Linked DNA regions of Homo sapiens: all the other regions are linked to region 3. The links come from fine-mapping of genetic effects on gene expression. A gene starts in region 3. Each other region holds a variant in brackets. All regions are shown on one strand. Distances are from middle to middle.

Evidence for each region. PIP is the estimated chance that this variant, and not a neighbour inherited with it, causes the effect.
Region 1: its variant is fine-mapped to the expression of WEE2-AS1 in whole blood (TOPMed, PIP 0.98).
Region 2: its variant is fine-mapped to the expression of WEE2-AS1 in CD8 T cells (Kasela 2017, PIP 0.95).

What each region holds. Positions count from the first base shown.
Region 1 is chr7:141,827,742-141,830,553 of GRCh38, forward strand. No RefSeq gene overlaps it. Among named protein-coding and RNA genes, the nearest start is that of PRSS37, 12 kb to the right of the region's middle. The variant G/A (reference allele first, on the strand shown) is at 1,385.
Region 2 is chr7:141,806,001-141,808,812 of GRCh38, forward strand. No RefSeq gene overlaps it. Among named protein-coding and RNA genes, the nearest start is that of TAS2R5, 17 kb to the left of the region's middle. The variant G/GATT (reference allele first, on the strand shown) is at 1,437.
Region 3 is chr7:141,736,443-141,739,084 of GRCh38, forward strand. It overlaps WEE2-AS1 (WEE2 antisense RNA 1), which reads right to left and starts at 1,600. Exons shown (of 4, transcript NR_199841.1): 1 at 941-1,600. SSBP1 (single stranded DNA binding protein 1) reads left to right here and starts at 1,916. Exons shown (of 7, transcript NM_003143.3): 1 at 1,916-1,968. RefSeq lists an enhancer at 933-1,818.

The sequences.
Region 1 (2,812 bases), 91 kb after region 3:
TGTGGGAGTGGCAAGATCACATTGCAGAAGAGCTTGTGGAATGGGAGGTGTTGTTGTGGCTATTGTTGGAAAATGTAATCTACGACACATCTCTTCCTCCCTTTTATGTTTTCCATCCTCTTCATGTTTTATTTTCAATTTTGATTTTTTAAAATAATTTCAACTTTTATTTTAGATTCAGGGATTCGTGTGCAAGTTTGTTACCTGAGTGTATGGTGTGATGCTGAGGTTTGGGTGTGATTGATATCATCATCCCAATACTGAACATAGTACTCAATAGTTAGTTTTTCAACCCTTGCCCCCTCCCACCCTACCTCCTCTAGTAATCTCCAGTGTCAGTTGTTGCCATCCATATGTCCGTGAGTACCCAGTGCTTAGCACCCACTTGTAAGTCACAACATGGGGTATTTTGTTTTCTGTTTCTGCATTAATTTGCTCAGGATTATGGTGTTCAGCTGCATCCATGTTGCTGTAAAGGATATGACTTTATTCTTTTTTATGGTTGCATAGTATTCCATGGTGAATATGTACCACATTTCCTTTATCCAATCCACCATTAGTGGACACCAAGATTGATTCCTGTCTTTGCCATTGTGAATAGTGCTGTGAGGCATATATAAGTGAATGTGTCTTTTTCATAGAACAATTTATATTCTTTTGGATACATACCCAGTAATCCAGTTGCTTGGTTGAATGGTAGCTCTGTTTTCAGTTCTTTGAGAAATCTCCAAAATGCTTTACACAGTGGCTAAACTAATTACATTCCCACCAACAGTGTATAAGTGTTCCCTTTTTCCGCAGCCTCACCAGTATGTTGTTATTTGACTTTTTAATAATTGCCATTCTAACTTCATGTTTTATTGCTTTGTCTTTGTTTCCCCAAGTGCTGATCTAAAGTTCTGGTTCTACAATAAGCATTTATTTGGTCTGGAGGACTCCCATACACTCCATATCTCTGAGATGATGCACAGTCTAATATAGGCCATTATGATAGTCTTGTGGTTTGGGAGCCTAGGCGGGGCACTGCCATAGGAATATGTGTTTCATAACACTCAATTGGTTTGTTTTTTTGGTCTTTCCAAGGGTGCTATGTTGTTCACACCAGCTACCTCTGTGTTAGCTCCAGAGCTAAAAATGTGTCCTGGTGCTTTCCTTATTCCTTGAGAACTTTTTTTTTTTCCTTTTTGAGTTGTGTCTTCCTTTTACCAGTGCTTCTGTAGACTAGAATCCACACTTGGGTCCGTGACTCTGTGAATAGATCTTTCTTCATTGCCACCAGACCCTCACATAAATTGGTTGGATAGAGATCATAGCTCTTTCCTGCAAATTCCCTTCATATCTTCCCTTTATTTCATGGGAATTATTTTCCAGTGATAGCCTGCTC[G/A]TATGTTCTGTTTGCCTGAACCTCTTCCCATGACTTAATTCCAAGACCCTTCAAGATTGCCTACTACAAACTTATGAATCTCCCTAGTTTGGGGCTGATGCTCTAATCTCACTCTCTGTGCAGTAATTTGATCCTCTGGATTAATATCATGGGGGATTTTATCTAGTAATTTCCAGTGTTTCTCTATAATTAGAATTTTACTCAAATTTGCCACCCTGTTTTTAATAAAGCTCTGAAAATTCCAGTTTTTCAGACTTATAAGATAATATTTATCTTAATCAAGAATATTGTGTTTGCTTTCTCACTGGGAACTAACCAGTTTATACATATCTTCTGTCTTTAATACTTGGATATTGAGCATCCTTTCCTTACTTAGAGTATGGAACAGCCATGAAGATGGCCACTTGAGTTTTTTTCTGCCTACTCACTAGGAGTCAGTGATGTGGTTTGAATTTATGTCCCTGCCCAAATCTCATGTTGAATTGTAATCCCCTATGTTGGACGAGGGGTGTGGTGGGAAGTGATTTGATCATGGGGGCAGATTTCCTCCTTGCTGTTCTTGTGATAGTGAGTTCTCATGAGATCTGGTTGTTTAAAAGTGTGTAGCACCTCCCTCTGCTCTCTCTTCCTGCTTCCCTAGCCATGTAAGACGTGCCTGCTTCCCCTTTGCCTTCCACCATGATCAAAAATTTCCTGAGGCCTCCCCAGCCATGCTTCCTGTATGGTCTGCAGAACTATGAGTCAATTAAACCTCTTTTTTTAATAAATGACCCAGTCTCAGGCAGTTCTTTATAGCAATGCAAGAACAGACTAATACAGTCAGATATGCATGGATATTTGATTCCATATTCTCTGAATTTTTTCCCTTCTTAGACATAGTTCCTCCTTCCTTCTGTTGTTTAGATACCATTTGAGTCGATTGTATCCTAAAAATGTTTTGTCAATACTTAACTATAAATATTACTTTAATATTGCATAATTTATTTATAAAACTTGATTAGAAACCACATTTTTAAGATATCCTGTTAAAAGTATTTTCTGAACATTAAACAAGACAGCTATATTTTAAACATTAAATGTTATTTTTCCTAAAAAATGAAGAAACAAAAACCCAAAGGCAGACCCTAGATTTTTTTTTCTGATGTTTTCTGAGTAGTAAGGGTTTTTGAATCCTCTCTATAACAAAATAAGCAAAAAGATAATATTTATATGGCTAGAAGCCTAGCGGTGAGCTGCCTGAAATTGCATGAATTCTGTTTTCTAAATAGAGAAATATTTTTTCTCCATAGTTGCCTTTTTATCTGCAATGGCTTTCTTTCATTTTTTGGAAGAAACCATTTTCAGATTTTTCCACTTAGTCTTAATTGATTATTTAACTCAGTCATGTATGTTCCCGTGATACATTCTGTCAAATCCTTCCCTTAGCAA
Region 2 (2,812 bases), 70 kb after region 3:
CCATCATGTAAGATGTGACTTTGCTCCTCCTTCACCTTCTGCCATGATTTTGAGCCCCCCCTAGCCATGTGGAACTGTGAGTCCATTAAACCTATTTTTCTTTATAAATTACCCAGTCTTAGGTATTTCTTTATAGCAGTATGAAAATGGACTAATACACTCTTCTTGTGATATTAAGTAAGTTCTCATGAGATTTGATGGTTTTGTAAGGGGCTTCCCCTTTTACTCAGCTCTCATTCTTCTCCTTCTTGCTACCATGTAAAGAAGGACATGTTTGCTTCCCCTTCTGCCATGATTGTAGGTTTTCTGAGGCCACCCACCCCAGACTTGTGGAACTGTGAGTTAATTAAACCTCTTTTCTTTATAAATTACCCAGTCTTGGGCAGTTCTTTATAGCAGCATGAGAATGGACTAATACAGAGGGGAACTTTTGTAACCTGATAGGAGGTATCTACAAAATGCATATTCTTAATGGTGAAAGACTAATGCTTTTCCCCTAAGGTCAGGAACAAGGCAAGGATATCTGCTCTGCCACTTCTATTCAAGATCGTACTGGAAATTCTAGCCAGGATGATTAGGCAAGAAAAAGAAATAAAAGTTATGTAGATTAGGAAGGAAGAAATAAAATTCTCTTAACTTGTAGATTATGTGATCTTGTTTATAGAAAATCCTAAGGAACCTACACTAAAAAGCCATTAAAAGTAATAAATGGCTTCAGTAACTAATAAAAGACTCACACATTTCCTCTGGTGGATGCTAAGGTTTAGAAAAAAAATTACTTGCAGAATACAAGAGCTGTATACAAAAATCAATTGTATGCGTGTACACTAGCAATGAACAATTCAAAAATAAAATTAAGAAAACACTTCCCTTTACAGTAGCATTAAAAAGAATAAAATATTTAGAAATAAATTTAACAAAAGTGCAAGACTTAACACTAAAACACCAAATAGCATTGCTGAAAGAAATCAGAAAAGACATAAATAAATGGAACTATATCTGATGTTCATGAATTGGAATGATGTAATATTTAGATATCGATACTCCCCAAATTGATCAATGCAATCCCTATGTAAATCCCAGCTGGCTATTTTTGTTGTTGCAGAAATTGACAAGCTGGTTCTAAAATGTATATAGTATTGTAAGAGAGCTATAGTAACCAAAACAATTTCGAATAAGAAGAAAAAAATTTTGAGAACTCACACTTCTCAGTTTCAAAAACTTACTAGAAAACTGCAATAATCAAGACACTGTGGTACTGGCATAAAGATAACATACGAATCACTGAAACAGAATTGAAAGTCCAGAATTAAACCTTCACATTTATGGTCAAATGATTTTAGCCAAGGGTGCCAAAACAATTCAATGGTAAAATAAGTTTTTTCACCAAATGGTGCTGGATCAACTGGATATTTACATGCAAAAGAATGAAGTTG[G/GATT]ATTATTATTATTATTATTATTATTATTATTATTATTTTGTGAGTCAGGGTCTTGCTCTGTTGCCCAGGCTGGAGAGCAGTGGCACAGTCATGGCTCACTGCAGCCTCGACCTCCTAGGCTGAAGCAATCCTACCACCTCAGCCTCCCTCCCAAGTAGCTGGGACCACAGGTTCATGTCACCATGGCTGGCTAATTGTTTCCTTTTTTTTTTTTTTTTGTAGAGATGGGGTCTCATTGTGTTACTCAGGTTGGTTTTGAACTCCTGAGCTCAAATGATCCTCCCATGATATCCTTTCAAAATGCTAAGATTACAGGTGTGAGCCACTGTGCCTGGCTTGATGTTGGATTCTTACTTCATACCATATATAAAAATTGACTGAACTTGGATCATAGACGTAAGTGTAATACCTAAAAGTAAGCAACTCTTTTTTTTTTTTTTTTTTTTTTTTTTGAGACGGAGTCTCGCTCTGTCGCCCAGGCTGGAGTGCAGTGGCGCGATCTCGGCTCACTGCAAGCTCCGCCTCCCGGTTTCACGCCATTCTCCTGCCTCAGCCTCCTGACTAGCTGGGACTACAGGCGCCCGCCACCACGCCCGGCTAATTTTTTGTATTTTTAGTAGAGACGGGGTTTCACCATGTTAGCCAGGATGGTCTCGATCTCCTGACCTCGTGATCCACCCGCCTCGGCCTCCCAAAGTGCTGGGATTACAGGCGTGAGTCACTGCGCTCGGCCAAACCTAGGCAACTCTTAACAAGAAAACTTATAGGAGTAAATCTTTGTAACCATCGGTAATCGTTTCTTAGATATGACACCAAAAGCATAAGCAAAAACAACAAAATAGATAAATTGGACTTAATTTTAAAAACGTTTGTGCCTCAAAGGACGCCATCAAGAAAGTGAAGAACGAATTATAGAATGGTAGAAAACACTTGCAAATAATATATCTGATAAGGGACTGGAATCCAAGATATATAAAGACTTCTTACAACTCTCTAGTAAAGAGACAATACAAGTAAGAAAGGGCAAAAGGGTTTTAATAGGTATTTTTCCAAAGAAAATATCCAGATGGCCAATAAGCACATGAAAAGATGGTCAACAACCTTAATCATCAGGGAAATGCAAATCAAAACCACAATGAGGTACTACTTCACACCCACCAGGATGGCCAAAGGAAAAAAGACAATAATGCATACTGATGAAGATTTGGAGAGATTGGAATTCTCATTCATTACTGGTGGGAATATAAACTAGTGAGCCCCTGTGGAAAACAGTTTGGCAGTGCCTCAAAATGTTAAATACAGAGTTACCCTATAACTCAGGAATTCCATTTATAGGTATATAGCCAAGAGAAATGAAAATACATAGCCATACAAAA
Region 3 (2,642 bases):
CTCCAGTCTGGCTTGGATCCTGTATTCAGTTAAAATTTTAATACAGTCATGCACTTCATAATGATGTTTTGGAAAAAGACTGCATATACAACAGTGCATATACAAAGGTGGTCCCATAAGATTACAATGGAGTTGAAAAATTCCTATCGTCTAGTGACATCATACCTGCTAAAACATCAGAATGCAATGTATTACTCATGTGTTACTTGATATTAATAATGACTATGTCACTGGTTTATGTATTTACTATACTTTTTATTATATTATTATTTAACTTATTTTTTAAAAGTTAACTGTAAAACAGCCTCAGGCAGGTCCTTCAGGAGGGATTCCAGAAGAAGACACTGTTATAGGAGATGACAGCTCCCTGTGTGTCACTGCTTCTGAAAACCTTCCAGTGGGACAAGATGTGGAAGTGGAAGGCTGAGATTGATCATAATGACCCTGTGTAGGCCTAGGCTAATGTGTGTGTTTATGTCTTAGTTTTTTTAAAAAATGGCTAAAAAGTTAAAAAAAAAAAGAAAAAAAGCAAAGGTAGAAAAAAGCTTGTAGAATAAGGATATAAGAAAAATATTTTTGTACAGTGGTACAGTGTGTGTTTTAAGCTAATTGTTATTACAAAACAGTTAAAACGTAAAAAAATTTGGAAGATTTATAAAGTTATAGTGAGTGAAAGTTTATTAAAGGAAGAAAAGTATTTTTTATAAACTGAGTGTAGCCTAAGTGTACAGTGTTTATGAAGTGTTTAGTGGGTACAATAATGTCCTAGACCTTCATGTTGGGCCACCACTCACTCATTTACTCACCCACAGCAACTTCCAGTTCCGCAAGCTCCATTCATGGTAAGCGCCCCATACAGGTGTGCCATTTTTATCTTTTATACCGCATTTGTACTGTACCTTTTCCATGTTTACATATGTTTAGACACACAGATACTTACCATGAATTACAATGGTCTGCGGTATTCAGTACAGCCCCATGCTGTCAGGTTTGCAGCCTGGAAGCAGCAGGCCACACCACAGAGCCGAGGTGTGTCCAGGCTCCACCATCTAGGTCGTCAAAGTACATTCTGTGGTGTTCGTACAGCAACAAAATCGCCTAATGACGCAATCCTCAGACCTTACCCTGTTGTTAAGGTACACATGACTCTTATTTTGTTCCTCCCGGATTTCCTGCATTAATTTTTACTTTTTAAAATATTACATTAATATATTATTTGATTGCCAGTTTTTCTGGTGCTCCCTTAAATTGCACAGCCTGCCAGCCCTTCCCTGGCTCCCCTTTCTTTTTCTGCTTTTCTTAGTGCTTCAACAGACCTGGGACGTTCTTTTTCTTTCTTTTTTTTTTTAATTTTCTTCTTTTTTTCTTTTTCTTGTTTTGTTTTGTTTTGTTTTGAGATAGAGTTCGCTCTGTTGCCCAGGCTGGAATGCAGTGGTGCGTTCACGGCTCAATGCAGCAACGACCTCCAGGGCTCAGGCGATCCCCCGACCTCAGCCTCCGGAGAAGCTTGGACCACAGGCGCGCGCCACCACGCCCAGCTAATTATATATTTTTTGTAGAGACAGGTCTCACTATGTCGCCTAGGCTGGTCACAAATGTTGCTTTTTTTTCCCTCCAGGCAGAGCTAGTCTCTGTTTTGCCTACCTCGCCCCCTCCTGGGCCCAGTTAGAAACCTCATCACATAATTTCATTTCTTTCCAAACTTGAAACCTTCTAAACTTGAAACCTTCTAAACTTGAAACCTTCCAAACTCACCACTTGGCGGCGTTGATCCATCCGCCCGCGCACAAAGAGAAGATCGCGGAACTTCAGAGTTAAGGGGAGCCGTTTCCCGCAGCGCTAGCCGGCAGTATTTCCAAGGCGCAAGTTGCGGAGTTTCTGTTTCCTTTTTCCTCTGGCGAGCTTTGCGTTCCCTGTGCGCCGGAAGTGATCCCCTGCGTGGCTGGGCTGCTCGGGTTAGATCGTCAGGTGAGGGAGGAAGGGATAGCCAGCGCGAAGGAAGTGCTGGAGTCGTGTGTTTTGGCTGCGCGTGATCCTGCGTGGGTCGGGAGGTGTTTCTGTGTAGGTGTCTGGCCCTTTCATCAGTCGTGCGGAGGACCGCGTGATTTCCTTCCAGTTCTCCTCGGTTTTCAGGTGGTGGCGCCATCTTCGGTAAAGGGTGTCCACCTCTCCCTATGGTGTGGCTGGCTAGCCCGGGGGTCTCTACGCTGCTTGGTCTTTGTTAACGGAGATGAAGGCAGTAATTTTTCAGTAACAGGTTTCAGATATAAGTCCCTTGGTGATGCTAATATTTATGGAGGCCTTACTATGCATTAAGAACTTTTTTAGAAGTTTAGAAAATGGCAGTGAATAAAGCAGATACAAATCTCTGCTCTAAGGGAGCTTGCATAGTAATGAAATTTGAGAAGACAGTGGATTGGAAGTGGGATTAACTCAGAATCAAAATTTTGTCGATGGGTTGGAGGAAGAGGAAGTTATTTGGGACCAAAAAGACATACAGGTGTGAGTTTATTTGGGAGGGAGGAAGGAATCCTCATCAGATGTGCAGGAATGTTGGTACGTTGTGGTCACAAAATTGGAGTGCATAAAAATTATGAATATAGTTAGGAATTTAGGACTGGTGAGTTGTACTTTTGCCATAA